3 separate regions of the Homo sapiens genome follow, and regions 2 and 3 are each linked to region 1. Evidence: fine-mapped expression QTL. A gene starts in region 1. Each other region holds a variant in brackets. All regions are shown on one strand. Distances are from middle to middle.

What was found. PIP is the estimated chance that this variant, and not a neighbour inherited with it, causes the effect.
Region 2: its variant is fine-mapped to the expression of GOT2 in whole blood (TOPMed, PIP 0.98).
Region 3: its variant is fine-mapped to the expression of GOT2 in tibial artery (GTEx, PIP above 0.99). The same link has a PIP of 0.9 or more in lung.

Annotation. Positions count from the first base shown.
Region 1 is chr16:58,730,640-58,740,667 of GRCh38, reverse strand. It overlaps GOT2 (glutamic-oxaloacetic transaminase 2), which reads left to right and starts at 6,352. Exons shown (of 10, transcript NM_002080.4): 1 at 6,352-6,528. The coding sequence starts at 6,440. RefSeq lists enhancers at 6,228-6,307, 6,007-6,625 and silencers at 6,748-6,837, 6,938-7,027.
Region 2 is chr16:58,688,890-58,698,917 of GRCh38, reverse strand. No RefSeq gene overlaps it. Among named protein-coding and RNA genes, the nearest start is that of SLC38A7, 9.1 kb to the right of the region's middle. RefSeq lists a silencer at 416-582. The variant AG/G (reference allele first, on the strand shown) is at 5,687.
Region 3 is chr16:58,702,694-58,712,721 of GRCh38, reverse strand. It overlaps GOT2 (glutamic-oxaloacetic transaminase 2), which reads left to right. Exons shown (of 10, transcript NM_002080.4): 9 at 3,155-3,305; 10 at 4,429-5,591. The coding sequence ends at 4,551. Among named protein-coding and RNA genes, the nearest start is that of SLC38A7, 23 kb to the right of the region's middle. The variant A/G (reference allele first, on the strand shown) is at 4,677.

The DNA of each region.
Region 1 (10,028 bases):
TACTCAGGAGGCGGAGGCAGGAGAATCGCCTGAACCTGGGAGGCGGAGGTTTCAATGAGCCGAGATTGCACTACTGCACTCCAACCTGGGCGACAGAACGAGACTCTGTCTTAAAAAAATAAATAAATAAAAATTAAAATTAAAAAATCCCTCCTAAGCATTGCAGATGCTTATACTTGTCCCCTGGGTTGATAGAGGTAGGAAGGGGAAGGATTCTAGGCCAGAATGTTCCTAGTTAGAAAACATATTGAAATTATAGCCTTTGTTATGTATGTGCACCGTTTACTCAATGGTACTGCGTGTATAGTGAAAAACTTAAGTCCTGTTTGAAACAGCTCATCTTCCTAGATGTTTAAAAATGCACAAAAATATGTTAAAAGGGCTAAAGTAATACCCTTCTTTTTTTTTTTTTAAACATTATAGGAGTGGTTGCATTTTGGGGACAGAATTGTTAAAGTTGATGTCTTGGAGGGTATGCTGACTGCTCATTGGGTGGTGGTGGGTGATGGGGAGGAGGAAGTTTGCAGAGAGAAGGGTTCTATGCCCATGAGTTAGACTACTTCAGATGGCCTAACCATTGTTCTATATGCACATTTTAGTTATTATTGCGTGCATTAAATAATAAAATAAGTTATAATGCTCAAAGTATGTTAAAGTAGAGGAAGTAAAATAATCCCTTTATAAATGTACTCTTGTTCGTTTTTACAAACACCTGTCTTCTGGGAGAGACCTTTGTCCCTAGACCTCTTGGAGCTAGACATAGTCCTGTACTTAGTCCCTGGAATGGTGGAAGGAGAAGAGAAAGGGTGGAGGGAAGGGCTCTTCGGTAAATATCTAGAAGATGGTTTTAAATTAAAATCATAGGTCTACATGTGCATTTTTAGTAAATTAGCTGTGTTTCTTGAGGACAAAGTTCATTGTTTTGCAACATCTAAGCTTTATAGATGTCCCGAGGTGACAGTGTAAGACAGGAGTATTCAATCTTTTGGCTTCCTGGGCCACACTAGAAGAACTGTTTTGGGTCACACATAAAATACACTAACAATGATGACAGCTGAAGAGCTAGAGGAAAAAAAAATCACAAAAAAACTCATAATGTTTTAACAAAGTTTATGATTTTTTTTGAGATGGAGTCTTACTCAAAAATCAAAAACCTGATGATTTTTTCAAATGAGCATTTACTCCATATTGTAAAATACAGAGAAATGGAGACATGGTGGTTGACCCTGAGGGGGAAGGAGTGCTGTCATTTGCTCCTGAGACTGTCAGAGCAGGTGGACAGCTTAAAGGACCCGTGGCTCAGGACCAAAACCTGAAATGCAGTATTCATGAATCCAAGTAATTAATAGTAGGGTTGGAAATATGAGGTGCGTGGGTGAAAAAGCCCAGGGCAATGGCCAGAAGGGGCAGGTCCACAGAAAAGGGGGGTGGAGGGAGACTGGGGAGGTAGACAGCCAGGACAAGGAAGATAATCAGGAGGGGCATAGGCCATGTCTTTTCCTTCCTTCCTCCTCCACATACCACATTACCTCAGTCCTTTAAAGTTCAGATCAAATGTCACCTCCCCCATGAAGGCCTCCCTGATTTCCACAGCTGACATTGAGCCTTTCCTCCTCTGTGCTCCCCTGGCTCACTCTCTCCTCCATCTGATCTTTGCCACACTCTGCCTCCTCCTATTTTAACTTCCCCCCCACCCCTCGCCCCCTGACAGCGTCTCACTCTGTTGCCCAAGCTAGAGTGCAGTTGCACAATCTCGGCTCACTGCAACCTCTGCCTCCCAGGCTCAAGCAATCCTCCCACCTCAGCCTCCCAAGTAGCTGCAACTACAGGCGCACACCACCACACCTGGCTAATTCTTGCATTTTTTTTTGTAGAGACAGGGTCTCACTATGTTGCCTAGACTGGTCTAGACCGGTCCTGGACTCAAGCAATTTTCCTGCTTCAGCCTCCCAAAGTGCTGGGATTACAGGCATGAGCCATTGCACCTGGCCCATATTTTAACTCTTTTAAAAGTTAACTGGTGTACGTCCTTTGCACTCCAGCTGCTTTGAATGGAGATGTGATGGATGAAGCTATGGCTACTATCTTGGACCACTGGGAGTCAACCATACTTTAGGGAGGGCGGGGCGAGGATCTGGAAGGACTTGACTTCCTAAGGACTCTGGGTCAGAAATGCCACCCCAACCCTGGACTGCCTATCTCCAGATTTTTATGTGAGAAAGATATATATGTTAAGTCAATTATTCGGGGTCTCTGTTAACTGCAGACAACCCCAATTTTAACTAAAGCATTGGGAATTATTTCTGACTCCTTTTCTACCTTTCTCTGCATCTAATCACCAAATCCATCTGATTCTACCTCCTTGATATGCCCCAGATCTGTAACCTTTTCTACATCACTGTTACCTCTACCTGAACTCAGGCAATCAGAATTTCTTGCCTGGATTCCTGTGTAAACCTTCCTTCTACCTAGTCTCCCCACTGTAGGGTTGTTCCTTCCAATCCACCTTTCATATCAGGAACTCAAATTAGCATATATACATATGTATATGTGTGTATATATATATATGTATATGTGTATATGTATGTATATGTGTGTATATATATGTATATGTGTATATATATACACACACAAAAAACTATATGCACACACACACATATACACACATACAGAAAAGTACAGAATCCAATGTGACAAATACTCAACCCCAAAATGGTGACAATTGTTAATCTGATCTGTATTTTTTCTTTTTTTCTTTTTTTTTTTTTTTTTTGGAGTCAGAGTCTTGCTCTGTGCCCAGGCTGGAGTGCAGTGGCACAATCTAGGCTCACTGCAACCTCTGCCTCCCAGGTTTAAGCGATTCTCCTACCTCAGCCTCCTGGGTAGCTGGGACTATAGGCACGCGCCACCACATCTGGCTAATTTTTGTATTTTTAGTAGAGACGGGGTTTCACCATGTTGGCCAGGCTGGTCTCTAATTCTTGACCTCAGGTGATCCGCCCGCTTTGGCCTCCAAAGTGCTGGGATTACAGGCGCGAGCCACCGTGCCTGCCTCTTATCTATAATTTTTATGAAGCTAATATGACAAAGTTGTCTCCTTCCCTCCACAAGGGCAAATACGCTCATGCCCTCCTAATCCTGTATTGAACCATATCCTTGGCATATTTTTTCAAACTTTTACATACATTTATGAATAAATGTATGTTATGGTTTTGTGTATTTTAAAAATATTGTCTAAGTGGCACCATATTATATGTATAATTCTATAGCATGTTTATGTTTTTGAGGTCTATCCATGGTGACATCTATTGAGTTCATTCACGTTAGTAGTTCTGTAATGCTCCATCATGAGACTGTAGCAGAACATCCATCTCTTCCTCCATCGATGGGCGACTAGGTTGTTCCCTGTTTTGCTTTTATAAACAATGCTTTACTGACAGCCTTAAAAATGTGTGAGAAGATCTCTAGGGTTTATACCTGGACATGTAATTGTTTTGGGAATAGTAGTTGTTATGTGTTGAAATGTGCCCCCAAAAAAGATACGTTTAAGTTCTAACCTGGGGAACCCATTAATGTGATCTATTTGAAAATAGGGTCTTTACAGATGTAATCAGGCGAAGATGAGGCAATTAAGATGCACCCTACCCCAATATGATTGGTGTCCTTAAAAGAAGAGAAGAGACAGACAGGGAGAGAACACTGTGTGACACCAGAGGCAGAGATTAGTGATGCCTCTAACAGCATACGAATGCCCAGGAGTGCAGACAATTGCCAGAAGCTAGGAGAAGCATGGAACAGAGTCTCTGAGACCCCATAAGGCACAAACCCTGCCAATACCTTGATTTTTGATTTTGGGCCTCCAGAATTGTGAGTGAATAAATTTCTGTTGTTTTAAACCACCCAATTCATGGGGATTTGTTACAGCAGTCTGAGCAAACTGATGTACTGGTATGTTTGAAATTCTTGTTTCTTGGTGCTGTAAAGAAATAGCACTTGAACATAAATTTAATTTCCTCAGCAAGGCCATCTTTATACTTTCGGCAGAAAGGGTACACTCGACAGCAGTTTTGCCATGAGAGTACACCAAACAAAGGAGACAAGGTCACTTATAACCTGATACATCCACCTTGCTGCTGTGTCCGGTTTTCATTGGCTGGAACAGGTCCTCACATTTTGTATTTGTTCTGATTGGCTAGCAACTTAGAACTTTTTAAAAGAGGCAAAGGCAGAGGAGAGCAAAGGAAGGAGGAAGTAACTTGTGGAATGCTGAGAAAGGTAAAAACACCTTCAAATAAGGAAGAGGAACAGGCTATGACCTAATGCTTGCTTGGACCAGTATAAGCATGCCAGGGCAAATATTTAGGCTAAATGGTGGCAGCTAGGAACATAAAGTACATTGATTTCTTTATTATGGCTAGCAGATATTTAAGACTGTTAGTACAGGTCTTTGAATACATTTTGTTTTTAAGAGAAGTTACTATTTATTTCTAATTAGACAGGGAGGAAAGTCTTTAAAGAAGAATCTCTACTTTACTTTTCACAGGTAGAATCCCAAGTCATGGCCTATAGGCGCATAGGTCAAGGTCATATGAGAGCATAAGGGTCTGAGACAGTAAATTGGAGCTGGGCCGGAAGGACCTAGAATGTGGCCCTAAGTAGGGGTTTAGACTTTACCATTCAGGCAACGTGGAGCCACAGAGGAGATATTAAATTGCCAAGGTACACAGTTCTATCTCGGTTTTATTTTATTTATGTATGTATTTATTTATTTATTTAGAGCCAGCGTCTCACTCTGTTACCCAGGCTGGAGTGCAGTAGCGCAATCCTGGCTCACTGCACTCTTTTTTTTTTTTTTTTTTTGAGTCGGAGTCTGGCTCTGTTGCCCAGGCTGGAGTGCAGTGGCGCGATCTTGGCTCACTGCAAGCTCCGCCTCCCGGGTTCATGCCATTCTCCTGCCTCAGCCTCCCGAGTAGCTGGGACTACAGGCGCCCGCCACTATGCCCGGCTACTTTTTTTTTGTATTTTTTTAGTAGAGAGAGGGTTAGCCAGGATGGACTCGATCTCCTGACCTCGTGATCCGCCTGCCTCGGCCTCCCAAAGTGCTGGGATTACAGGCGTGAGCCACCGCGCCCGGCCTGCACTCTTGAATTAATGGGCTCAAGCAATCCTCCCTCCTCAGCCTTCTGAGTAGCTGGAACAGGCACGCAACACCACATCCTGCTAATTTTTTTTTATTTTTTTAAGAGATGGGGGTTTCATCTTGTTACCCAGGCTGGTCTCAGACTCTTGTTTTCATGCTATCCTCCTGCCTCAGTCTACCAAAGTGTTGGGTTTACAGGCATAAGCCAACACACCGGGCCCCTACCTTGGTTTAAGAGACGAGTATCAGAGAAATAGACTACACATGAGAAAGACTCGTTTGACTTGTGGATGTGTCTGAAATTCATTTGCTTTTTCCTTTAAAACCGATTCATTTCCTTCAAAACCGATTCATTTCCTTCCACAAACAGTTATCAGGATTTGACATACACGAGTTTGTCATTAATGACCATGGGTTATTTTGTGCTTACTAAATCAGGCCCTGTTTTAGACATAATCTGCTAATCTTATTAATCCTCACAACTGCCCCACAAAATACACATGCGACCCTCTCCATAAAAGGGATAAGGAAGCCAGGTGCGGTGGCTCATGCCTGTAATCCTAGCAGTCTTGGGAGACTGAGACGGGCAGATCACTTGAGATCAGGAGTTTGAGACCAGACTGGTCAACATGGTGAAACCCCCGTCTCTACTAAAAATACAAAAATTAGCCGGGCGTGGTGGTGGCACCTGTAACCCAGCTACTCGGGGAGCTGAGGCAGGAGAATCGCTTGAACCTGGGAGGCAGAGGTTGTAGTGAGCCGAAATCACGCCACTGCACTCCAGCCTGGGTGACAGAGTGAAACTCCATCTCAAAAAAAAAAAAAAAAAAAAAAGGGTGGGGGATAAGGAAACATTCAGGAACGACGTGACATGACTTGTGCTTAGGGAAACTATTAGGGTTGAAAGTAAGGCCACCTTGGGTCCTAATGGCTGTAAGGCATCAGACAAAATACGTCAACTATGTCAGCCTACATTTTCTCATCTTTCAAACTGCCATAACAGCAGCCACCTCTTCGGCCGGCCAGGCCTGGCCCAGCTGGATTAAATGAATGAAGCGCAGCAAGGGCTGGGCGTAGGTAAACTGTGCAGTCATCCTCTTCCACGACCTCCGCTGAGCCCACGCCGCTCCGCCCGCCGGCCGCCAGGGATCGCTGTGACGTGGCTCGGGCCCAGCACGCGGCCGCTCTGGCCCAGGGAAGTCCCTGTCCTTACCTTCAGCAGGAGCCGGTTCCCTGTGTGTGTGTCCGCTCGCCCTCTGCTCCGTCCTGCGGCTGCCCACTGCCCTCCTACGGTCCACCATGGCCCTGCTGCACTCCGGCCGCGTCCTCCCCGGGATCGCCGCCGCCTTCCACCCGGGCCTCGCCGCCGCGGCCTCTGCCAGAGCCAGGTAAGCCAAGGGAAACGGAGATGGAGCCAGGGCGATGGCCCTGCCCCGCCGAGCTGCGAGCACCCCAGGACATTCACCCCTCCCGGCCCCCAAATACACACTGTCACTCACACGCACACACACACACTTTTCTGCCACCCCCTCGGCTTTCCCTTACTGGGGACTGAGGATTGAGCGTCCGTGCCCCACAGTGATCCTCAGGATCCCACATCCCTCTGGTCCCCGCACTGGGCCCTGCAGGAAGGCGTGCAACGCAATCCCTAGGGAAAGGAAGTGTGGCCCTCGGCGGTTGCCGGACTCCCATTCAGTGGGAGGGGTGCGGATAGTACTGGGGCAGCGGCGCCGGGTAACGACCGTGCCCTTGATAGGGTGCCCTGGGGGCGGCGGGCGCACCTGTCCTGGCCCCCGGCCCGCCCGAGTCGGTGGGCCGGCGGCGGCTGGCTGCCGCGTGTGTGCCCTGGGCGGGAAGAGCGCGAGAGGAAGGTTTCCGGGGCGCCGGCATTCGGGCCTCGCTTTCCTTCCCGCACCTGCGACCTTGGCGTGCGGCATTCTCCTGACCTTGCGACCCCCCGAGGTCCCTGTGACCCCGGGGCCCGTTTGGCCTTTGCTTGGGAAAGGGTCGAGGTGTAGTGTGTCTCTTTTTTTGTTTTGTTTTGTTTTTTCCTTATTGCCCCTAAGGAGGTCCGGTTGCAGGGAGGCTATCAATCTTCCTCTCCATCTCCCTGTGCTCTTTCATTCAGTAAATATTTCGTAACTGCAGTTTCTCAGAGCCAGGCTCTGGACCAGATGCCAACGATACAACTGTGAACAAGGCGAGGGAAGGACAATGACAAATGGTCATTGCTCAAAAAATGACAAACGTAATTTCGTACTGTGGCGTGTATAATAGTATGGAGGGAAATTTCAGAGCTTGAAACGAGCTCTAGTAATTCATTCCCAGTGGAGACCGGAGCCAGAAGATTAATTCAACTCAAGAAGCCGATTTGGAGCACTCTCCTTAAGCACTACCTTAATAAGGAACTGAGTTTTAAAACCACCCCCAAGCAGGTATTAACTGCAAGGAGCAAAGCGTAGCTTGGCCTTTCGTTTGAATGTATGCTCTGTGTCTTTCAGCCAGCAGAACTATCTGTCCTTTCCAAGGCCCCACAGCCTTGGCAGTACAGTTTTGCCCAGGCTTCGCACTTTTTTCTCTTCCTGACTTGGCTCCTTCCTGGCCCACTGTCAACGTGTGCTCTTTAAGTCTGCCTACCTAGTGGGCCAGAGCCAGGAGGAGTTATTTATGCAACAAATTTGGAAAACCAAAGGAGTGCTTAAAATTTCCGTCAAGAGAAAGTATGTTTCCCTATTGCAGTAATCTTAAAATAATACCTTGTTTTATGGATTTGGCTAGATCACCTGAAGCTCTAGTGCTTGGTGAAAATCCCTTGGGGTCAGGGTTAGTCATTCTTTCAGTTTGAGAGTCTGACTCATTTTTCTTTTCTGTATTTTTCTTACTAGAATGTAAGTTCCATGAGAGCGGAGACTTTACCTACTTTATATTCACTGTTACATCTCAGCACTATTAACAGTTGCTGGCATGTCTCTTATATTGGATATTTTTATTTTAAGCCCTGATTTTTCACGTAATGCAACGGAAACAAATACAGTATGACATTTTAATGTTGTATCTTAGATCAAAATCTGAACATAGGCTGGTCCAAGTGTAATGGTGTTTACAACTAATTGATCATAACCAGTTACAGATTTTATTGTTCCTTCTCTCGACTAATCTTACACAGGGGAACCACAGTGCTGCAAAATATGTACCAAAAAAAATTCCCTTTTTTTTTTTCTTTAAATACAGGGTCTCACTGTGTTGCCCAGGCTGGAGTGCAGTGGCACAATCATGGCTCACTGCAGCCTGACCTTCCAGGCTCAAGTGGTCCTCCTGCTTCAGCCTCCCAAGTAGCTGGGACTGCAGGCATACACCACCACACCCAGCTAATTTTTTATTTTTTGTAGAGACAGAGTCTCCCTGTGTTGGTCTCAGACTCCTCCCACATCAGCCCCGCAAAGCGCTGGGATTATAGGCTAAGCAACCCCACCTGACCAGAAAATAAATTCTTGAAATAGTTGAGCACCTAATGTTGAGGAATTACTCTTCAGATTTAAATAATGATACCTGATTAGGTGACAGAATCAGATGCCATATTTGGCATGAAGGTTAACTCTTCAGGCAAGATCAGACTTCCCTCCTTACACTGTGGAAGTGATCTTTACCTAGCTCCAAATGGTAAAAGTGGAAAATACTTAAACTGAATTCATCGACATTTCTATTTAAATGGCTCATTCTAATACAATAAAACCTTGTCTGTTGTTATTCTGAAGAACTGAGGATTTATCCAATGGCATACTTGGAACTCTTTGTAAATATGTGGAACTCTTTGTAAGTTCAAGTGTATCATTTAGCTAAACACTGCGAATAAAACTTTCTCTTGTTGACTTGTACTGTAAATGTATAGTGACATGAGATCAGACATAGTTGCAGTTCAATGAAGAAAAAAAAAGATGCTAATGTATTTTGATTTATAATGATTTGCTTTTAATTATTTAATTCTGATTATTTACTTTTTGGTGAAATAACTGAGCAGGTCTCGTGAGACTTTAAAAATGCAGTGTGCAACTGTGGTACCATAACCATTGGTTAAAAGATCACAGACCAGGCACAGTAGCTCACACCTGTAATTCTAGCACTTTGGGAGGCTGAGGCAGGTGGATTGCTTGAGCTCGGGAGTTCTAGACCAGCTGGGCAACATGGCAAGACCCCGTCTCTACATAAAATACAAAAATTAGCCGGGCATGGTGATGTGCACCTGGAGTCCCAGCTACTTGGGAGGCTGAGGTGGGAGGGTCGCTCGAGCCTGATCGCTTGAGAGGTGAAGAGTTGCAGTGAGCCCGCTGATCACGCCGCTGCACTCCAGCCTGAGCAACAAAGCAAGACTGTGTCTCAAAAAAAAAAGATCACAGCTGTGCTATTGTCTCTGCCATTTTTAGCTCTGTGATTGTGGGCAAGCTAATTAACTTCCCTTCTGATTTTAAAGTAAGAAGAATGTGAGGAAAAGCAGTTTAAAAACTGTAAAACTTTAAGTAGGCTTAAGCTCCAGGGAAATTACAATGCGTTTCGATTGGAAAGGCTTACCTGAATACTTGGTACCTAACCTCTCTTGGATGACCAGTCAATATTGCTCAATGTTTGAGGCTTTGTGCCTGTATCCAAAATGTACTGATAGAAATCACTTTCTAGGTCACAGGTTATCAGCATGAGTTTTGCCCCTAGAACACTCCTATTTTCATCTACTCGATTCCTTTAAAAACATCAGAGTTCTTACAATATGTGTGTAGTCTTTACCATTTTAAGAAATGGAATAATGAAAGGCATGGAGGAGTTGAAAGATGGTTACTAATGTGGGGCTAATCAAATTGAGTATTCCCTCTAGGCCAGGTGCCGTGGCTCACACCTG
Region 2 (10,028 bases), 42 kb after region 1:
TAGTCTCAGCTACTCAGGAGGCTGAGGTGGGAGGATCGCTTGAACCTGGAAGCTGGAGGTTACCGTGAGCCGAGATCGCACCATGGCACTTCAGCCTGGGGGACAGAGAGACTCCATCTCAAAAAAGATTTTTGTAAAAAGTATATGTACACTAAAGAAAAAAAATGAAGGCCATTCTCTAAATGTCCAAATCTAAAAAAGGAAGTTACTCAATATCCAAAGATCTTTTCAGACCAATTCCTGGAGCAATGTGAAGGAATTGCAGCTGAGAATTTCTGTCAGGCTTATATTTAACAATCCCTTACCTTTATTTACATGGCACTTAAAAATGGACATGATCGGCCAGGCGCGGTGCCTCATGCCTGTAATCACAGCACTTTGGGAGGCCTTGGGAGGCCGAGGCAGGCAGATCACTTGAGGTCAGGAGTTCGAGACCAGCCTGGCCAACATGGTGAAACCCCATCATTACTAAAAACACAAAAATTAGCCAGGTGTGGTGGCGGGCACCTGTAATCCCAGCTACTTGGGACGCTGAGGCAGGGAGAATCGCTTGAACCCAGGAGGCGGAGGTTGCAGTGAGCCGAGATGGCACCATTGCACTCCAGCATGGCCAACAGTGAGACTCCGTCTCAAAAAAAAAAAAAAAAAAAGTACATGATCTTATTTGATTATTTGATGCCCATAGCAACCTTCAATAAATATTTTTGAGCAAGTACTGTGGCAGGTCATTTGTGCTTAGAACTCGAAGGCACCCTTTATTGTTTTTCCCCATCTTGGCTTTGACACTATAGACTTTACCAATTAGGGCTCCTTTGGTTGCAAGTGCCAAAAGCCAGCTTGACTGGCACAAGAATAAAAAGGGAATTACCTCATGTACATGTACTGGAGAACAGCCCAAGGCTGATATAACGGTAGCTCTAGCTCTCTAGCTGGTAGGTCCAACAGCCAGAGCCAAGTGCTCTATGTTGCCAAGAATCTGCCTCCATTTGTCAGCTTCACTTTTTTTGCTGCTGGTGCTGGCACTGGCTTCATTCTTCGTCTTCTGGCACTGGCTTCATTCTTCTTCTTTTTTTTTTTTATTTTTATTTTTTGAGATAGAGTCTCGCTCAGATACCCAGGCTGGAGTGATTGCAGTAGTGCAATCTTGGCTCACTGCAACTTCTGCCTCCCAGGTTCAAGCGATTCTCCTGCCTCAGCCTCCCAAGTAGCTGGGATTACAAGTGCCTGCCACCACACCCGGCTAATTTTTTGTATTTTTAGTAGAGACGGGGTTTCGCCATGTTGGCCAGGCTGGTATCGAACTCCTGACCTCGAGTGATCCACCTGCCTCGGCCTCCCAAAGTGGTGGGATTACAGGCGTGAGCCACAGCGCCTGGCGGGTACTGGCTTCATTCTTGAGAAGGCCATCCTCTCAACAGTGAGAAGATACTCACTAGCAGCTCCAGGAGTTTTTAATAACTCCACTCCCTCTCAAAAAAAAAAAAAAAAAAGAGAAAGAGAGAAAGAAAAAAAGCTTCTCTTTCTCAATTTCAACAAATGTCTGAAGACCTATTCTAAGTTGGTCCAGTTTAGGATATTCCACAGCAGATGCAAAAGCATAATGGAAGGCCTGGAAGCAAGTTAGAGCTTAAAAATTGGAGTAGCAAGAGATCTGTCTAGCAGGGCAGGCAGAGGCCACACCACCAAGTGCATTATGTCTTCTTAAGGAATTACTGGATCCTGTAGGCAAAGCGGTTTAAGGAACAATGTCATCTGCTCCATCTCAATTCGGTTGCATCAATATGAACATTGATCCCCATCCAAACTCTTACTCTAAACTGGAGGAAGTGGAAAATAAAGAACAATTCTTGGCCAGGCGTAGTGGCTCACACCTGTAATCCCAGCACTTTGGGAGGCCGAGGCAGGTGGATCACCTGAGGTCAGCAGTTCGAGACCACCCTGGCCAACATGGTGAAACCCTGTCTATATTAAAAATCCCAAAAATTAGCCGGGTGTGGTGGCGGGCGCCTGTAATCCCAGCTACTCGGGAGGCTGAGGCAGGAGAATCACTTGAACCTGGGAGGTGGAGGTTGCAGTGAACCAAGATCGCACCACTGCACTCCAGCCTGGGCAACAAGAGCAAAAATCCATCTAAAAAAAAAATAGAATGATTCTTATGAGAGCATTTTTGAAATGGCACAATGTGGAAGAGAGAATCTTCTCTTCCATAAAAGCAATGAGAATACTGTCAAAAATTGCCAAAATCAACATTCTGGGAATGAAGCAAAGGCTTCCAACAATCCCAGGAGAGTTTATTCAAGAAAAATGACAACCTCAGTAAGAACGGCAAGACTTGTAGCATTTAACGCCCTATTCCCATCCCCCTCCTCCCAGCTCCATGGTAGCCTTAAAAACCAAAAGACTCAAAACTGGTGTCAGGGACCAGTGCGGTAGCTCATGCCTGTAATCCCAGCCCTTTGGAAGGCTGAGGCAGGCGGATCTCTTGAGCTCAAGAGTTTGAGACCAGCCTGGGCAACACAGTGAAACCCCATCTCTACTAAAAATACAAAAATTAGCTGGGTATGCAGGTGCACACCTGTATTCCTAGCTACTCAGGAGGCTGAGGCATGAGACTCACTTGAACTGGGAGGCGGAGGTTGCAGTGAGCCGAGATCTTTCCACTGCACTCCAGCCCGGGTGACAGAGCAAGAGTTGGTTTCAAAAAAACTAAGAAAGAAAAAAAAATAACTTCAAAAGAAAAAAGCTGGGGAATGAATTGTCTATAGAGGCCTTTAAAAAGTTTTGAGTGGCTCACACCTAAAATCCCGACATTTTGGGAGACAAAGGCAGGAGGATCACTTGAGCCCATGAGGTCAAAGCTGCAGTGAGCCATGATAATGCCACTGCACTCAAGCCTGGATGACAGAGTGAGATCCTGTCTCAATAAGTAAGGACCAGGCGCAGTGGCTCACAACTGTAATCCCAGTGCTTTGAGAAGCCAAGGCAGGCAGATACTTGAGGTCAGGAGTTCAAGACCAGCCTGGCCAACATGGTGAAAGCCAGTCTCTATGAAAAAATGCAAAAAAATTAGCTGGGCATGATGGCGCACACCTGTAGTCCCAGCTACTCGGGAGGCTGAGGTGGGAGAATTGCTTGAACCGGGAGGGGGATATTGCAGTGAGCCAAGATTGTGCCACTGCACTCCAGGCTGGGCAACAGAGTGAGACTCTGTCTCAAAAAAAAAAAAAAAGAAGTAAGTAAGTAAAAGTTTGTCATTCTCCTGGAAAACTAGAAAACCATGAACAGGCACAGGCTGTGCACATGTCCAGGTAAGATCTAAGAACATCCTAATCTCTCACTTCTGGCTGGCCTTGAGGCTCTGTGCAAGCAGAAAGTGAAGTCCAGGACAGAGGGATAAACTGCCAACCAGAGAATTAAAATCAAACGGGCTGGGATACTTACTGGTTCAAGGCATTTAAGGAAATCTATCAAATTCACTAAACTAACTCAGAGGAGACTTCAGTGGCCACACACAGCAAAGAATACAGACTTTAAAGAATTAGTCCAGGAAGGTCACTACAGAAAAGGTAGCAGCAACAAACTCCAATTTTTGGATTTCCATATTATATTATTTTTCAATGTCTAGTCTTCAAAAACATTATGAAAAATGTAAAGAAATGGGAAAGTATGGTCCATACATAGGGAAAAAAGCAGTCAATAGAAACTGTCCCTGAGGAAGCCCAAGCCCAGGCATTAGACTTACTAGACAAAGACTTGGAATCACATAGGCAAAGAGTGAAAGGAAATTATGTCTGAACAACTACAGAAAAGTATGAGAACAGCGTCCTGTCATATAGAGACTATCAATGAATAGATATTATTAAAAAGACCCAAATAGAAATTCTGGAGTTAAAAAGTACAGTAATAACTGAAATTAAAAATTTAATACAAGGGCTCAATAGTAAATTTGTGCTGACAGAAGAATCACTGAACATGAGGATACATCAATTGAGATTATCCGGCCTATGGAAGAGAAAGAAAAAAAATGAAGAAAAATGAGGGCTGGCTGTACCTGTAATCCCAGCACTTTGGGAGGCTGAGGAGGGCAGATCACTTGAAGCCAGGAGTTCCACACCAGCCTGGCCAACAAGGTGAAACCCCGTCTCTACTAAAAATATGGAAATTAGTCGAGCATGGTGGCATGTGCCTGTAATCCCAGCTACTCAGGAGGCTGAGACATGAGAATCACTTGAACCCAGGAGAGGGAGGTTGCAGTAAGCCAAGATCACAACACTGCACTCCGGCCTCGGTGACTGAACCAGACTGTCTCAAAAAAAAAGAATGAAGAAAAATGAACAGAATTTCAGAGACCTGTGAGACACCATCAGGCATACCAACATATACATAATGGCTGTCTCAAGAGAGCGAGAAGGGAGCAGAAAGAATATTTGAAGAAATAATGATGGAAAACTTTCCAAAGTTGAGAAAAACATTATCTACACATCCAAGAAACTCTAAGATAATCTTTTTTTATCTTTTTTTTTTTCCTTGAGACGGAGTCTCACTTTGTTGCCCAGGCTGGAGTGCAGTGGCGCAATCTCGGCTCACTGCAAGCTCCGCCTCCCAGGTTCACGCCATTCTCCTGCCTCAGCCTCCCGAGTAGCTGGGACTACAGGCGCCCGCCACCACGCCCAGCTAATTTTTTGTATTTTTAGTAGAGACGGGGTTTCACCATGTTAGCCAGGATGGTCTCGATCTCCTGACCTCGTGATCCGCCCACCTTGGCCTCCCAAAGTGCTGGGATTATAGGCGTGAGCCACCGCGCCCGGCCTAAGATAATCTTAAAGAGATCCATACCTAGAAACATCATAAACTATCCAAAGTCAAAGAGAGAAATTTGAAAGCAGCAAGAGAAGGAACACATACCGGGCTCCTCAGTGAGCTTAACAACTGGTTTCTCATCAGAAACCATGGAGGCCGGAGGCAGTGAGGAGACACATGCAAAGTGCTCAAAGAAAAAGACCATAAATTAAGAATTCTGCATCCAGCAAAACTATCCTTCAAAAACAGAGAAATTAAGACATTCCCAGATGAAAACAGAGAAAATTGTTGCTAGCAGATCTGTCCTATAAGAAATATTCAAGGAAATCCTTAAGGCTGAAATAACAGGACACTAGACAGTAATTTGAATGAAGAAATAAAGAGCACCAGTAAAAGTAACTACATAGTAAATATTAAAAGTAGTACAAATGCATTTTTTTGTGTATAACACTTTTCTTGTGTTCCCTACTTATTTTTTATTTTTTAAAACACAGTCTTGCTCTGTCCCCCAGGCTGGAGTACAGTGGTGCAACCTCAGCTCACTACAACCTCTGCCTCCGAGGCTCAGCAGTTCTCCCGCCTCAGCCTCTCCAGTAGCTGGGACTACAGGTGCACACCCCCATACCCAGCTAATTTTTTTTTTTTTTTTTGGTAGAGATGGGGTTTCACCTTGTTGCCCTGGCTGATCTCAAACTCCTGGGCTTAAGTGATCCACTCATATCCACCTCTCAAAGTGCTGGGATGACAGGCATGAGCCATCACACCTGGCCATGCTCTCTCATTTAAAAGGCAACTGCATAAAGTAAGAATTATAAAACTATGTTGATGGAGCCAAGCTCAGTGGCTCATGCCTGTAATCCCAGCACTTTGGGAGGCCAAGGTGGGC[AG/G]ATAATTTGAGGTCAGGAGTTTGAGAGCAGCCTGGCCAACATGGTGAAACCCTGTCTCTACTAAAAATACAAAAATTAGGTATTTTTAGTGGTAATGCATGCCTGTAGTCCCAGCTACTCAGGAGGCTGAGGTGGGAGAATAGCTTGAACCCGGGAGACAGAGGTTGCAGTGAGTCAGCATTGTGCCACTGCACTCCAGCCTGCATGACAGAGTGAGACCCTCTGTCAGAAAAAGAATTTTTTTAATTTAACAGTAAAACTATGTTGATGGGTTTATAATGTATATAAACTCTTGTCATACTGAAGTAACATATAGGGGAAGAGAACAAAAGGATATAGAAGCAAAGATTTGGAACCAAGTGAATTAAATTGGTATTAATTCTAACTAGATTGTTGTACTAACATTAATTATAATCCACAGGGCAACCACTAAGAAAATCACTCAAAACTGTATATAGTAAATGTCTTAGTCCATTTTGAGTTGCTGTAACAGAATACCACAGACTGGAGAATTTATAAGCAATAGAAGTTTATTTGGCTCATGGTTCTAGAGACTGGGAAGTCCAAGAGCATGGTGCTGCCATCTGGTGAGGGCCTTCATGCTGAGTCATCCCATGGCAGAAGGTGGAACACTTATTTTTATTTTTATTTTTATTTTTATTTTAAGACAGGATCTCGCTCTGTCATTCAGGCTGGAGTACAGTGGCAGGATCATAGTTCACTGCAGCCTCAAACTCCTGAACTCAAGCAATCCTCCTGCCTCAGCTTCCTGAATAGTTGGGACTACAGGCATGAGACAGCATGCCTGGCTACTTTTTCTTTTCTGTAGAGACAGCTATGTTCACTGGGCTGGTCTTGAACTCCTGGCCTCAAGTGAGGCCTACCTCAGCCTCCCAAAGTGCTAAAAATCACAGGTGTGAGCCACCGTCCGCAGTCCAGAACTTGCTTCAGTAATAAGCCCAATCTCATGATAACTAACCCACTCCCACAATAATGATATTAGTCCATTCATCAGGGCAGAGCGCTCATGACCTAATCACCTCTTATGTGGCCTCACCTCCCAACACTGTTGCATTAGGTATTAAGTTTCTGACACATGAATTTTGGGGGACATATTCAAATGATAAAAGTAAAATATCACAAGGGAATAAAATGATAGACTAGAAAATATGTACTTAACACAAAATAAGACAATAATGGAGGAACAGAGGAATAACAACAACAACAACCAAAAGACATATAGAAAACAAACAGCACGATGGCAGATGTAAAGCCTACCTTACTAGTAATTACATTAAATGTAAATGAATTAAACACTACAATTAAAAGACAGATACTAGCAGAAGGGATTTTTTTATTTAAAAGATCCAACTACATGCTGTTGACAAAAGACAATCTTTTTTTTTTTTTTTTTTTTTTGAGATGGGGTCTTGCTCTGTCACCCAGGCTGGAGTGCAGTGGCGTGAGCACAACTCATTCCAGTCTCAAACTTCCTGGGCTCAAGCAATGCTCCCATCTCATCTTCCTGAGTAGTTGGGACCACAGGCATGTGCCACCACACCTGGCTAATTTTTTTAATTTTTAGTAGAAATGAGATGTCACTATGTTGCCCAGGCTGGTCTCAAACTACTGAGTTCAACAATCCTCCTGCCTCAGCCTCCAAAAGTGATTGGATTATGGGCATGAGCCACTGCTCCCAGCCTCATACTTTCAAGAATGGATATAACAACTAGGCAGAAGGTCAACAAGAAAAGAGAAGGCTTCAACGATACCATAAATCAACCAGCTACACCTAATAGACAATCTATAGAACACTTGACCCAACAAGAGCAGAATATGCAGTCTTCTCAAATGCACATGGAACATTCTCCAGAGTAGCCCATACATTAGGCCATAAAACAAGCCTCCATAAACATAAAAGGACTGAAATCACACAAAGTATGTTCTCCGACCACAGTGGAATGAAACTAGGAATCAATCACAAAAGGAAATTTGGGAAATTTATAAATACATGGATGTTGAACAATATACTACTGAATAGCATCAGTTAAAGAAGAAATCACAAGGGAAAATAGAAAATATTTTAATGAAAATGAAAACACATATCAAATCTTCTGGGAAGTAGTTAAAGCAGTGCGTAGCTATAAATGCCTGTGTTAAAAAAAGAAGAAAGATGTTGGCCAGGTGCGTTGGCTCATGCCTGTAATCCAAGCAGTTTGGGAGGCCAAGGCAGGTGGATCACCTGAGGTCAGGAATTCGAGACCAGTCTGGCCAGCGTGGTAAAACCCCATCTCTACTAAAAATACAAAAAATTACCAGGCGTGGTGGCACGTGCCTGTAATCCCAGCTACATGGGAGGCTGAGGCAGGAGAATCACTTCAACCCAGGAGGCAGAGGTTGCAGCGAGCCGAGATCGCACTACTGCACTCCAGCCTGTGCGACAAAGCGAGACTCCGTCAAAAAAAAAAAAAGAAAGAAGAAAGATCTTAATTCAATAACCTAATGTTCCATCTTAAGAAACTGTAAATAAAAGATCAAATTAAACCCAAAGCAAGCAGAAGAAAAGAAAATAATAAAAACTAGAGCTAAAATACAGGAAACACAATAGAAAAATAGAGAAAATCAACAAAATAAAAAAATTGTTTCTTTTTAAGAATCAATACAACTGACAAAGCTTTAACTACACTGACCAAGAAAGAGAAGACTCATATTGCTAAAATCAGGAATGAAATAAAAGCCATTAATACTGCCCTTATAGAAATAAAAAGGATTATAAGAGAATACTATGAAAAATATATGCCAACAAGCCAGATAACCTACATTAAATGGACAAATTCCTAGAAAAACACTAACCCAAACTGGCTAGGCGTGGTGGCTCACACCTGTAATCCCAGCACTTTGGGAGGCCAAGGCGGGCAGATCACTTGAGGTCAGGAGTTCGACACCAGCCTGGCCAACATGGCAAAATTCCATCTTTACCAGAAATACAGAAAATTAGCCAGGTGTGGTGGCACATGCCTGTGGTCCCAGCTACTTGGGAGGTGGGAGGATCACTTGAGCTCAGGAGGCAAAGGTTGCAGTTAGCCAAGATCGTGCCACTGCACTCCAGCCTGGGTGACAGAGTGAGACCCCATCTCAAAGAAAAACACTACCAAAACTGACTCAAAGAGAAATAGAAAATTTGAATAGACTTACAATTAAGAGATTGAATGAAGAATCCAAAGACTTCCCACCAAGAAAAACTGAGGATTTGACAGCTTCACATAGACTACACCATCACCAAGAAATATTAATCCCAGGAATGCAAAATTGATTCAACATAGGAAAATCAATGTACATACCACATCGATAAAATAAAGTAGAAACATCACATAATCATCTCAATAGAAGCAGAAAAAAAACCCCACCATTTGACAAAATCCAACACCCATTCATGATAAAAAACACTCAACACACTAGGAATACACAGGAAATTCCTACCCTGATAAAAGGCATCTACAAATAATCCACAGGCAACATCATACTTAATAATGAACCGCTGAATGATTGTCTCCTGAAACAAGGAACAAAACAAGGATGTCCACTCTCATCACTTCATTCAACATTGTACTGGAGGTTCTGGTACAGTCAAGGCTAGAAAATAAAAGGAATCCAGATTAGAAAGGAAGATATAAAATTATCTCTATTTACAGGTTTTATAATCTTATGTTGAAGATTCCACTAATAAAACTATTAGAGCTAGTAAATAAGTTCAACAGAATTGTAGGGTGTAAGATCAATATACAAAACAGTTGTAGGAGTAGCACAGTGTCTCACACCTGTATTCCTAGCACTTTGGGAGGCTGAGGTGGAAGGATTGCCTGAGCCCAGGAATTCAAGACTAGCCTGGACAACACAGCAAGACCCTGTCTTTGCAAAAAATTTAAAAATTAGCTGGACATGGTGGCACACATCTGCAGTCCTGGCTACTTGGGAGACTGAGGTGGGAGGATCACTTGAGCCCAGGATTTTGTGCTGAGCAGCAGCCTGGGCAACAGAGCAAGGCCCTGTCTCTAAAATGATAATAATAATAATAACAAAATACTTTTTTTTTCTGAGACAGAGTCTTGCTCTGTCACCCAGGCTAGGGTGCAGTGGTGCAATCTCGGCTTACTGCAACCTCCACCTCCCAGGTTCAAGCAGTTCTCCTACCTCAGCCTCCCGACTAGCTGGGACTACAGGCGCATGCCACCACACCTGGCTAATTTTTTTGTATTTTTAGTAGAGACAGGGTTTCACCGTGTTAGCCAGGATGGTCTAGATCCCCTGACATCGTGATCCACCCGCCTCAGCCTCCCAAAG
Region 3 (10,028 bases), 28 kb after region 1:
AATGTTTTTAAAAATATTTTCATATTCTCTGGTTATGAAGATTTTTTTTAATGCATGCATTTCAATACACAATTTGAGAGTCTGTAGTAGACAAAGATGCCAGACTGTGTTAATGACTACCCTCAGGGTGGTTATAATCTGATGAGAAAGATACACACATGACTTTCTTGTTCTTGTTGTTGTTGTTGTTGTTGTTGTTCTTGTTGTTGTTTTGAGAGAATCTTGCTCTGTGGCCCAGGCCGGAGTGCAGTGGCACAATCTCAGCTCACTGCAACCTCCGCCTCCTGGGTTCAAGCGATTCTCCTGCCTCAGGCTCCCCTGAGCTGGGATCACAGGCACCCACCACCATGACTGGCTAATTTCTGTATTTTTAGTAGAGACTGGGTTTCACCACATTGGCCAGGCTGGTCTCAAACTCCTGACCTCAATGGATCCATCCACCTCAGCCTCCCAAAGTGCTAGGATTATAGACGTGAGCCACCGCGCCTGGCCACACATGATATTTAATATAAGACAGAATGGAATAAATGATGACTAAAGGGAGAGCTGTTGATTCTAGTGGGGAGTTAGAGAAGATGTAATGAGGACTGCGGCATGTGAGCTGTGCATTAAAGAGGGGAAAGGGCTTTTTTTTTTGCAAAGGAAATGAAACGGACAAGGAAACTGGGGAGAGATCTGAGTGAGGGCATAGGCGTGGGACGTGCATTATGCAGAACTTGTGTAGAAAGCCCCAAGTTGTTTTCGTGATGAAAACACGAATGTGAGGAGGACTGTGGGAGACAGCCAAGCTGAGAAGGTGGAGCAGATCGTGAAGCACCCTGGTTGATACTGTAAGAAGTCAACACTTGATTCTCCAGGCAACAAGGAGGATGGAGGGGTTTGGCTAAGATGGCTCCACATCTAGCCCTGTTCATGCACTCAATATCTTTGGGATCCAGGCCTCAAAGTGAATGAAGCTGGACGATGGAAACTGTAGGAAATTTAAAATCAGATGCCATAACTGGAGGGGCCAGGGGCTCCTCAGCTCCAGCCAGTAATTATTTTGCTAATACAGTGCTATCGTTTCTCATTTTTCAAGAGAAACTACAGGTTTCAGCTTTTAGGCACAAGTGCCCAATTTAAAAACGTTTCACTGGGTGAAGTAAAACATTACTAGGTCCCATATTTGGTCTTTAATTGGCAGTTTGTGATCTCTCTTCTAACCGTGCATAACATCATTATACAGAGATGGTTTAGGAAAGTGAACACCTAAGAACAGGGAGATAAACTGTAAATGGGAATGTCATTGGTGAGAGCCAAGAATGTCCCAGAGCCATGGGAATGGAGTGGAAAGGGTAGATTCTGAGGAAGGGGAAGGTTGTATTCAGAATCAGGTGATCCCCGTGCACAGTCAGAGGACTACCTTCTCCAGTCCCTCAGACAGAATTTACTCTCCTTGGGGCTTTTAGCATAGCAGTGTCCTATGTGTTTTACATTTTGTGGCCGTATTCCATACTTGGTTTACAGGTTTGGTTACAAGCACCCCTTGCAAGCTTTTGAAGGCAAGGACTATGTCTCAGTCCTCACCACCTAAAATAGCTTGGCTCATTGTAGATTCATAGTACATTGTCTCAATTGTGAAGATGGGAATGTATATTTCATCCATGTCAAAAATAAGGTCATTTTTTTTTTTTGTTTAACCCACAGCTTTTACCTTAATCTTAGTAGGTTTTAGAGTGATTCATTCACTTTTCTTTTTTTTTTTTTTTTTTTTTGAGACAGAGTCTTGCTCTCTCACCCAGGCTGGAGTGCAGTGGCGCCATCTCCGCTCACTGCAAGCTCTGCCTTCTGGGTTCACACCATTCTTCTGCCTCAGCCTCCCCAGCAGCTGAGACTACAGGCACCCGCTGCCACGCCCGGCTAATTTTTTTGTATTTTTATTAGAGACGGGGTTTCACCGTGTTAGCCAGGATGGTCTCGATCTCCTGACCTCGTGATCCGCCCGGCTAATTTTTTTGTATTTTTAGTAGAGACGGGGTTTCACCGTGTTAGCCAGGATGGTCTCGATCTCCTGACCTCGTGATCCGCCCGCCTGGGCCTCCCAAAGTGCTGGGATTACAGGCGTGAGCCACCGTGCCCCGCCCACTTTTCTTAATACAGATGCAATTATGATGGGGTTACATCCCAATAAGCCTGTCATAAGTCAGAAATGCATTTAAGGCCAGGCTTATGTCTGTAATCCTAGCATTTTGGGAGGCCAAGGTGGGAGAATCACTTGAGCCCAGGAGTTCCAGACCAGCCTGGGCAAAATGGGGAGACCCTGTCTCTACAAAAAAAAAAAAAAAAGAAAAGAAAATTAGCAAGGCATGGTGGAATGCACTTGTGGTCCCAGCTACTTGGGAGGCTGAGGCAGGAGGATCACTTGAGCCTGGAAGATTGAGGCTGCAGTGAGCCATGATCATACCATTGTACTATCCAGCCTGGGTGATAGACTGAGACTGGGTGATGGACTGTATCTGAAAAAAAGAAAAAGAAAAAGAAAATGGGCCAGGCGTGGTGGCTCACACCTGTAATCCCGGCACTCTGGGAGGCCTAGGCAGGAGGATTGCTTGAACCTTGGAGTTTGTAACCAAACCGCGCAACATGGCAAAACCCCATCTCTACATTAAAAGAAAATTCATTTAATACACTTAACCTACCAAACATCATAGCTTACCCTAGCATACTTTAAACATGCTCAGAACAGGTATTAAACTACAGTTAAGCAAAATCATCTAACACAAAGCCATTTTATAACAGAGTGCTGAATGTCTCATGTAATTTATTCAATACTGTACTGAAAGAAACAAAATGGCTGTATGGGTACTTAAAGTACGGTTTCTATTGAATGTATATTGCATTTGTGCCATCATGAAGTTGAAAAGTTGTAAGTCAAGGACTGTCTCTACTCAAGTGTGTTAACTGCTTCAGTTGCCTTATGGAAATAGTGTTCCAATATAAAACAGAATGCTATAAAATAGCTTTCTTCCCTGGCCAGTGACAGCGTGTCACTCATTCGTGACCTGAGAATTGAGGCACACTAGGGGACTGCTCAAGGGAGGTAAAAATGCAGTGAACTCCAGCATATCGGTCAGTGCTTAGGCAGAATGAGCTGCATCTCAGGGTTTCTTTACAGGCTGCAAGAAGTGAAAGTCATGGCTGACCGCATCATTGGCATGCGGACTCAACTGGTCTCCAACCTCAAGAAGGAGGGTTCCACCCACAATTGGCAACACATCACCGACCAAATTGGCATGTTCTGTTTCACAGGGCTAAAGCCTGAACAGGTGAGTGATTCTGATTTCTCTGCAGCAGACCAGCTGATCAGTCTTTGCAAACCCGAAGGATTACTTTTTTTTCTTTTTTCTTTTTTATTTAATGTTTTCGGGTTTTTTGTTTTGTTTTGTTTTGTTTTGTTTTGTTTTTGTTTTTGTTTTTGTTTTGAGACAGTCTCGCTCTGAAACCCAGGCTGGAGTGCAGTGGTGCAATCTCAGCTCACTGCAACCTCCACCTCCCAGGGCTTAAGTGATCCTCCTGCCTCAGCCTCCCGAGCAGCTGGGACTAGAAGTGAGTGCCACCACACCTGGCTAATTTTTGTATTTTTTGTGGAGACATAGTTTCGCCATGTTGCCCGGGCTTGTCTTGAACTCCTGGACTCAAGCGATCCGCCTGCCTTGGTCTCCCAAACTACTGGGATTACAGGTGTGAGCCACTGAGCCCAGCCCCAGAAGGATTCTTCATAGATCACCCACCTGTTCAAAATTACCCTAAAAACAGTTAAAACAGTTATTTTGGAGCCCTTTTAGGTAAAAGTATTGTAATACTTTTTAGCATTTATTTTGCTTTTTTTTTTTAGTTGTTTACCTCTCTGTATCCCCCATGAACTCACAAACTTCTAAAGAGCAGAGCTTGTTTTGATCATGTTCATAATCACTGTTGCTTCTCCCAAGAGAGCAACAGGAGAAATAGCTGTTTCATAATTGAATCCTGGCTCTGCTGAATCTAAAGGTGTCTTTTTCCCCATCTGTTTATGCATCAGAATTCATCATCCTACTTTAAAGTAGCTTTTTTTTTTTTCTTTTTTTGAGATGGAGTCTCACTGTGTCGCCCAGGCTGGAGTGCATTGGCGCAATCTCGGCTCACTGCAGCCTCTGCCTCCCAGGTTCCAGGTTCCAGGTTCCAGCTATTCTCCTGCCTTAGCCTCCTGAATAGCTGGGATTACAAGTGTGAGCCACCGCCCCAGCCTTAAAGTAGCTTTTTATTCTTATTTTATTCCAAGCTAACAGCAAATTCTGGGAACAGGTTTTAAGCGAGGAAATAGAGCGTTGGTAAGTTGGCTACTGTGCCATGTCAGGCCGGGGAGAATCCCCTGTACCGGGAAGAGGTACCCAAGTTCTTTCCTCTCTGCAGGTGGAGCGGCTGATCAAGGAGTTCTCCATCTACATGACAAAAGATGGCCGCATCTCTGTGGCAGGGGTCACCTCCAGCAACGTGGGCTACCTTGCCCATGCCATTCACCAGGTCACCAAGTAATGTCCCTGGTGCGAGGAAACAGAGACAACCTTTCTGTCTTCAGCCTCTGCTATTGAGAGCTTCACACAGACAATGAGAGAGGGTGGATGGTGGTGAGTGGATCATTTCTTTCAGCCACAGTGTGT[A/G]ACACTCAGCATTTGAATGTTTCTCAGAAAAGAACATGTAGTGACACAGGGCAGAGGCATCCATGGCTGGCGTCTGGAATATTAAACCAAACTCTCCCCGGTCCTTTTTTCTCCAACTTTTCTCAAAGAGTTTACATGTGCAAGAAAGTCATCGCACCAAAAAACCTGTCAATTATGCCATTGCAATATTTCAGAAGCTTTAACTGAAGTGTCAGGTTCCTCGTGAGAAACAGCACACGTTAGAGGCTTTGAGAGAAGGCCTAGTTCTGTCATGAGTAGTCGGCCTCGTGTCTGTCCTCCCATCTTGGAACAACCTTATCAACAGGCCGCACTGCAGAAATGATGTTTTATGAAAACCAATGAGGCTGCTGCCACTCCAGCAAGGGAAATAATGCAGTTTCCTGTCTTATTTAAGAAAAAGAGAAGGCTCTCTTTTCTCCCTTGTCATTGCCGTTCTTTTCCTTACACGCAAAGATTTTTTAACTATTGCAGATTTTCATCCCATTCTACTGCTTGATTGACCATCAACTCCATCCTATCGAGATTTATTTAAGAATGAAGAACATAATTTTCTGCTGATGCTGTACCCTCACCCTTTTCAGCAAAGAATAGTGGAGAGTAGGAAACTGTACTTTATCTCGGCATCCTCTTGAATGATAGTGCAAGTTTCTCCAGTTGGGATGTTGTCTCTGCCCGGTTGGACCTCCTCCCTTTGTTGAATGTGGTGTGCAGCCTCTCATCTCACACTGTGAGTCCAGCGGCGCAGGGTGGTACCAGGAAAGAGGATATTCTAGGCTTTGCGTGCTGCTAGCTGGGTTCAGGCTTCACCCACTGGAAAGAACCACCATCTGCTCTAACCATGTAGACTTATTGCGGCCTGGTTTCTCTGTTACAATAAAATTACTGTAGACCCAACTACTGTCTACTAAGTTATCTTTTTTCTTTAATGGGAGGAAGGGGTAGGAGTGGGTAAATAAATAAAGGGGTAGGAGTTTGGAATCGTGTAGCTGATCATAAGCCAGTAGATGTATCCACTATTCCAAATATTGGCTGAAGATTCGTCGTTTTCTTCATGTTGCCATTCAGTTTGTCCAGTCCGAAGATGCTGAGAATGTGGGTGTAATCCCTTGGACCTTGTGGGGAACAAGTGGAGTCCCATGAAGGATCCTGTGGATATAGGCAAAGGGTAGAAGGGGTGGAGGAGAAGTGACAACTTCAGTGGTCTATAGGAGCCAAGAAGGTAACGTAAATAAAAAAGTGTTGTGAACTGGATTTAAGTTGATCAGTGGTGATCAACCCTCATCCTCAGCATTGAGGAGCAGTAGTGAAGTGACAGGAGCTGTGAGGATGAACGCCCAAGGTGGTAGGTCTTACATTTTTCAAGAAAAATGGAAATCTTGATTTCTATGGTTGATCTGTTGGTGCTTAAAAGTTGGCAACTGGTTCAATTTTTAAAAAATTATTTGGGCCAGGCATGGTGGCTCACGCCTGTAATCCCAGCACTCTGGGAGGCTGAGGTGGGCAGATCACCTGAGGTCAGGAGTTTGAGACCAGCCTGACCAACATGGAGAAACCCTGTCTCTACTAAAAATATAAAATTAGCTGGGCATGGTGGCGCATGCCTGTAATCCCAGTTACTCAGGAGGCTGAGGCAGGAGAATCGCTTGAACCCAGGAGGCGGAGGTTGCAGTGAGCCGAGATCGCGCCATTGCACTCCAGCCTGGGCAACAAGAGCGAAACTCCGTCTCAAAAAAAAAAAAAAAAAAGGAAAAAAAATGATTTGGAAGCAGGGTGCAGATGGTAGACTGCAAGTCTGTGTCCTCTGATGTAGGTCACATGCCCCTGTCAGCAGACATCCAGCACTGGCACCTGTGTGGCATCAGTCCTGCTTACGGTATTTTGTCCCTTTCATTCAGTGCAAGGAGCCTTTCATTGTGGGAGAGTGACCAGCCAGATAAGCAATGGAGCAGGAGCCAGGCCCAGGGACCCTCCACAGTGTCCCCATGGTTGCTGGGATGGGCAAGCAGGCTCAACTTGTTCTTTCCCCCTTGCCTTCTCCTGAGGGACACACTGCATGGCAGGTCAGGGGTCGCTCTGACTCTTTGCTTCTCTGTGTTCCTGTTACTAGTGGACATTCCAAGGTGGTGAAAGGATATGTGAAAGGACTGGTTCACTGGATGTCTTTATCTGAAAAGGGGAAACAATAGACATATTAGTCCGCTGCTCTGCAAAGGTACTGACTGCCTAAGTTAGGAGAAACTGAAGTTCTCCCTGTCTGGAGCAAAAATGGTTGAAAGTTGGTTGCCAAGACCTCAACTAATTGTGAAAGGAACTTAACCCCCACCCCCTGGTCTCACTCTGTCGCCCAGGCTGGCGTGCAGTGGTGCGATCTCGGCTCACTGCAACCTCCACCTCCCGGGTTGAAGCAATTATCCTGCTTCACCCTCCCAAGTAGCTGGGACTACAGGCGTGTGCCACCACGCCCAGCTAATTTTTTGTATCTTTAGTAAAGACGGGGTTCCACCATGTTGGCCAGGATGGTCTTGATCTCCTGACCTCGTAATCCGCCCACCTCAGCCTCCTGAAGTGCTGGGATTACAGGCATGAGCCACTGCACCCAGCCTGACCTTGTTATTTTTAAACATGGGTACTACCACCTTACACTGGACTAAGTCCCATTCATCATGTGGTGTCTGCAGCTTGATGGTTTTCTGAGAAGGTCAGAACATTGGCCCACAGCCTTTTCCTAGCTCCCTAGTCTGGTCTAAAATGTTAACATTCTCCAATCTGATAGTAGTTTGCCAGCTCAGAGAGAATAGTCATACCTTGGTTTCATTATAATTCAAGGTAGAATAGTTCCCAAATCTAGATCATTTATTTAAAGTACTGGTTCTCTGGCCTCACCTCTTAGGCATTCTGATTCAGCATGTCTAAGAGAAAGCTTGACAATCTATTTTTTTAAATTAAAAGAAAAACTGCAGTTGATTCAAATATAGCTCACCCATAGATCAGCCATGGGGAACTATCAGCCTGAACTGTTTCAGGTATACATCTAAACAACCAAAGTCCAACTTACTCAGCCAACTTGAGAGTTTATTCTAAGCCTTTTTTCTGAATTTTTTTTTTCATAGAAATTACTGGGGGTTTTTTTGTTTTGTTTTGTTTTTGTTTTTGTTTTTTTTTTATGAGACCAGGTCTTGCTATGTTGCCCAGGCTGGTCTCAAACTCCTGCACTCAAACGATCCACCCACCTTGGCCTCCCAAAGTGCTGAGATTACAGGTGTGAGCCACCGCACCCGGCCTATTGGTTTATTTATACCTAATGATAACTGAAAGACCAATTGTTTCTTTTTCAAGATATCTTATAAAAATGTTGAAAACAGTAGTTTTTATTGATAACAGTAGGGTATGCTCATTTTAGAAAATTTTAAATTCCTCAAATGCCTACCATGTGGAGATAACAGTTGTTTGTATTGAATTATCTTCCCTTGGTTTTTCTGTGCAAATATTTACGTGGTAGAGATTGTACTACTAATATAATTTTGGCTGGGCGCAGTGACTTGGGCCTGTACCCAACTACCCAAGAGGCTGAGGTGGGAGGATCACTTGAGCCCCGGAGTTTGAGGCTGCAGTGAACTATGATCTAAATGGAAAGAATGAACTTTGACCCCCTACTTAACAACATATACAAAAGTTTATTCAAGATGCATCACAGACTTAAATGTGGAAAGTGAAACAATAAAGCTTCTAGGAAAAAAAGTAGGCGCAGGCACCATGGCTCATGCCTGTAATCCTAGCTCTTTGGGAGGCTGAGGCAGGAGGGTTGCTTAAGCCCAGGTGTTCAAGACCAGACTGGGCAACATAGTGAGACTCTGTCTCTAAAAAAAAGAAAACAGGGCTGGATGCCTGTAAAAAAGGCTCATGCCTGTAACCGCAACACTTTGGGAAGCCGAGGTGGGCGGATCACCTGAGGGTCAGGAGTTCGAGACCAGCCTGGCCAATGTGGTAAAACCCCGTCTCTACGAAAAAAAAATAAAAATTAGCCGGGCCATGGTGGCATGTGCCTGTAATCCCAACTACTCAGGAGTCTGAGGCAGGAGGATCACTTGAACCCAGGAGATGAAGGTTGCAGTGAGCTGAGATCGCCATCATTGAACTCCAGCCTGGTCAACAAGAGTGAAACTCCGTCTTAAAAAAAAGGGGGAGCTGGGCGCGGTGGCTCACTCCTGTAATCCCAGCACTTTGGGTGGCCGAGGCAGGTGGATCACGAGGTCAGGAGTTCAAGACCAGCCTGACCAACATGGTGAAACCCCATCTCTACTAAAAATACAAAAATTAGCCGGGTGTGGTGGCACACGTCTGCAATCCCAGCTACTCAGGAGGCTGAGGCAGGAGAATTGCTTGACTTGAATCCGGGAGGCGGAGGTTGCAGTGAGCCAAGATTGTGCCCCTGCACTCCAGCGTAGGCGACAGAGTGAGACTCCATCTCAAAAAAAAAAAAAAAAAATCTTCAAAACTTTAGGCAAATGTTTCTTAAACAAGACATAAAAAGCACTGACCATAATTAGACTTCATCAAAATCAAGGATTTTTGTTCCACAAAGGAAACCAATAAAGTGAAAAAGCAGTCTTCAGATGGAGAATATATTGACAGCACATATAAATAACACCAAAATCCAAGCCAGGAGTGGTGGCTCACACCTGTAATTCTAGCACTTTAGGAGGCTTAGGCAGGTGGATCTCTTGAGCCCAGGAGTTTGAGACCAGCCTGGGCAACATGGCAAATCCCCATCTCTACTGAAAATACAAAATTAGTCGGAAGTGATGGTGCATACCTGTAGTCCCAGCTCCTCAGAAGGCTGAGGTAGGAGGATCGCTTGAGCCCAAGGAAGTCGAGGCTGCAGTGAGCCATGATTGTGCCACTGCACTCCATCCTGGGCGACAGAGTGAGGCCCTGTCTTAAAAAAATAAAACTAGAATCCAGATATATCCAGAACTATTCCAAATCAATAAGACAATCCAGTTTTTAAAATGAGCAAGAGACTTGAACAGGCAAGTCACAAAAGAGGATATACAAATTTGAATTTATGCATATTCAAAGCATATGAAAAAGTGTTCAGTATCATTCATCAGGGAAACACAAAACCTCTATTAGACGCACCCACCTAAATGGCTAAAATTAAGACAAACACCACCAAGACTGGTGAAGATGTGTAACTAGAACTCTCACTTTGCCAGTGGAGTAAATACTGTTGGAATTTACTAAAGCTACACATAGGCTGTCTTAGTCCTTTTGTGTCGCTATTAACCCTTTCCCATTTAGAAAAAAAAAAAAACGCAGCTTGCTGCCAGC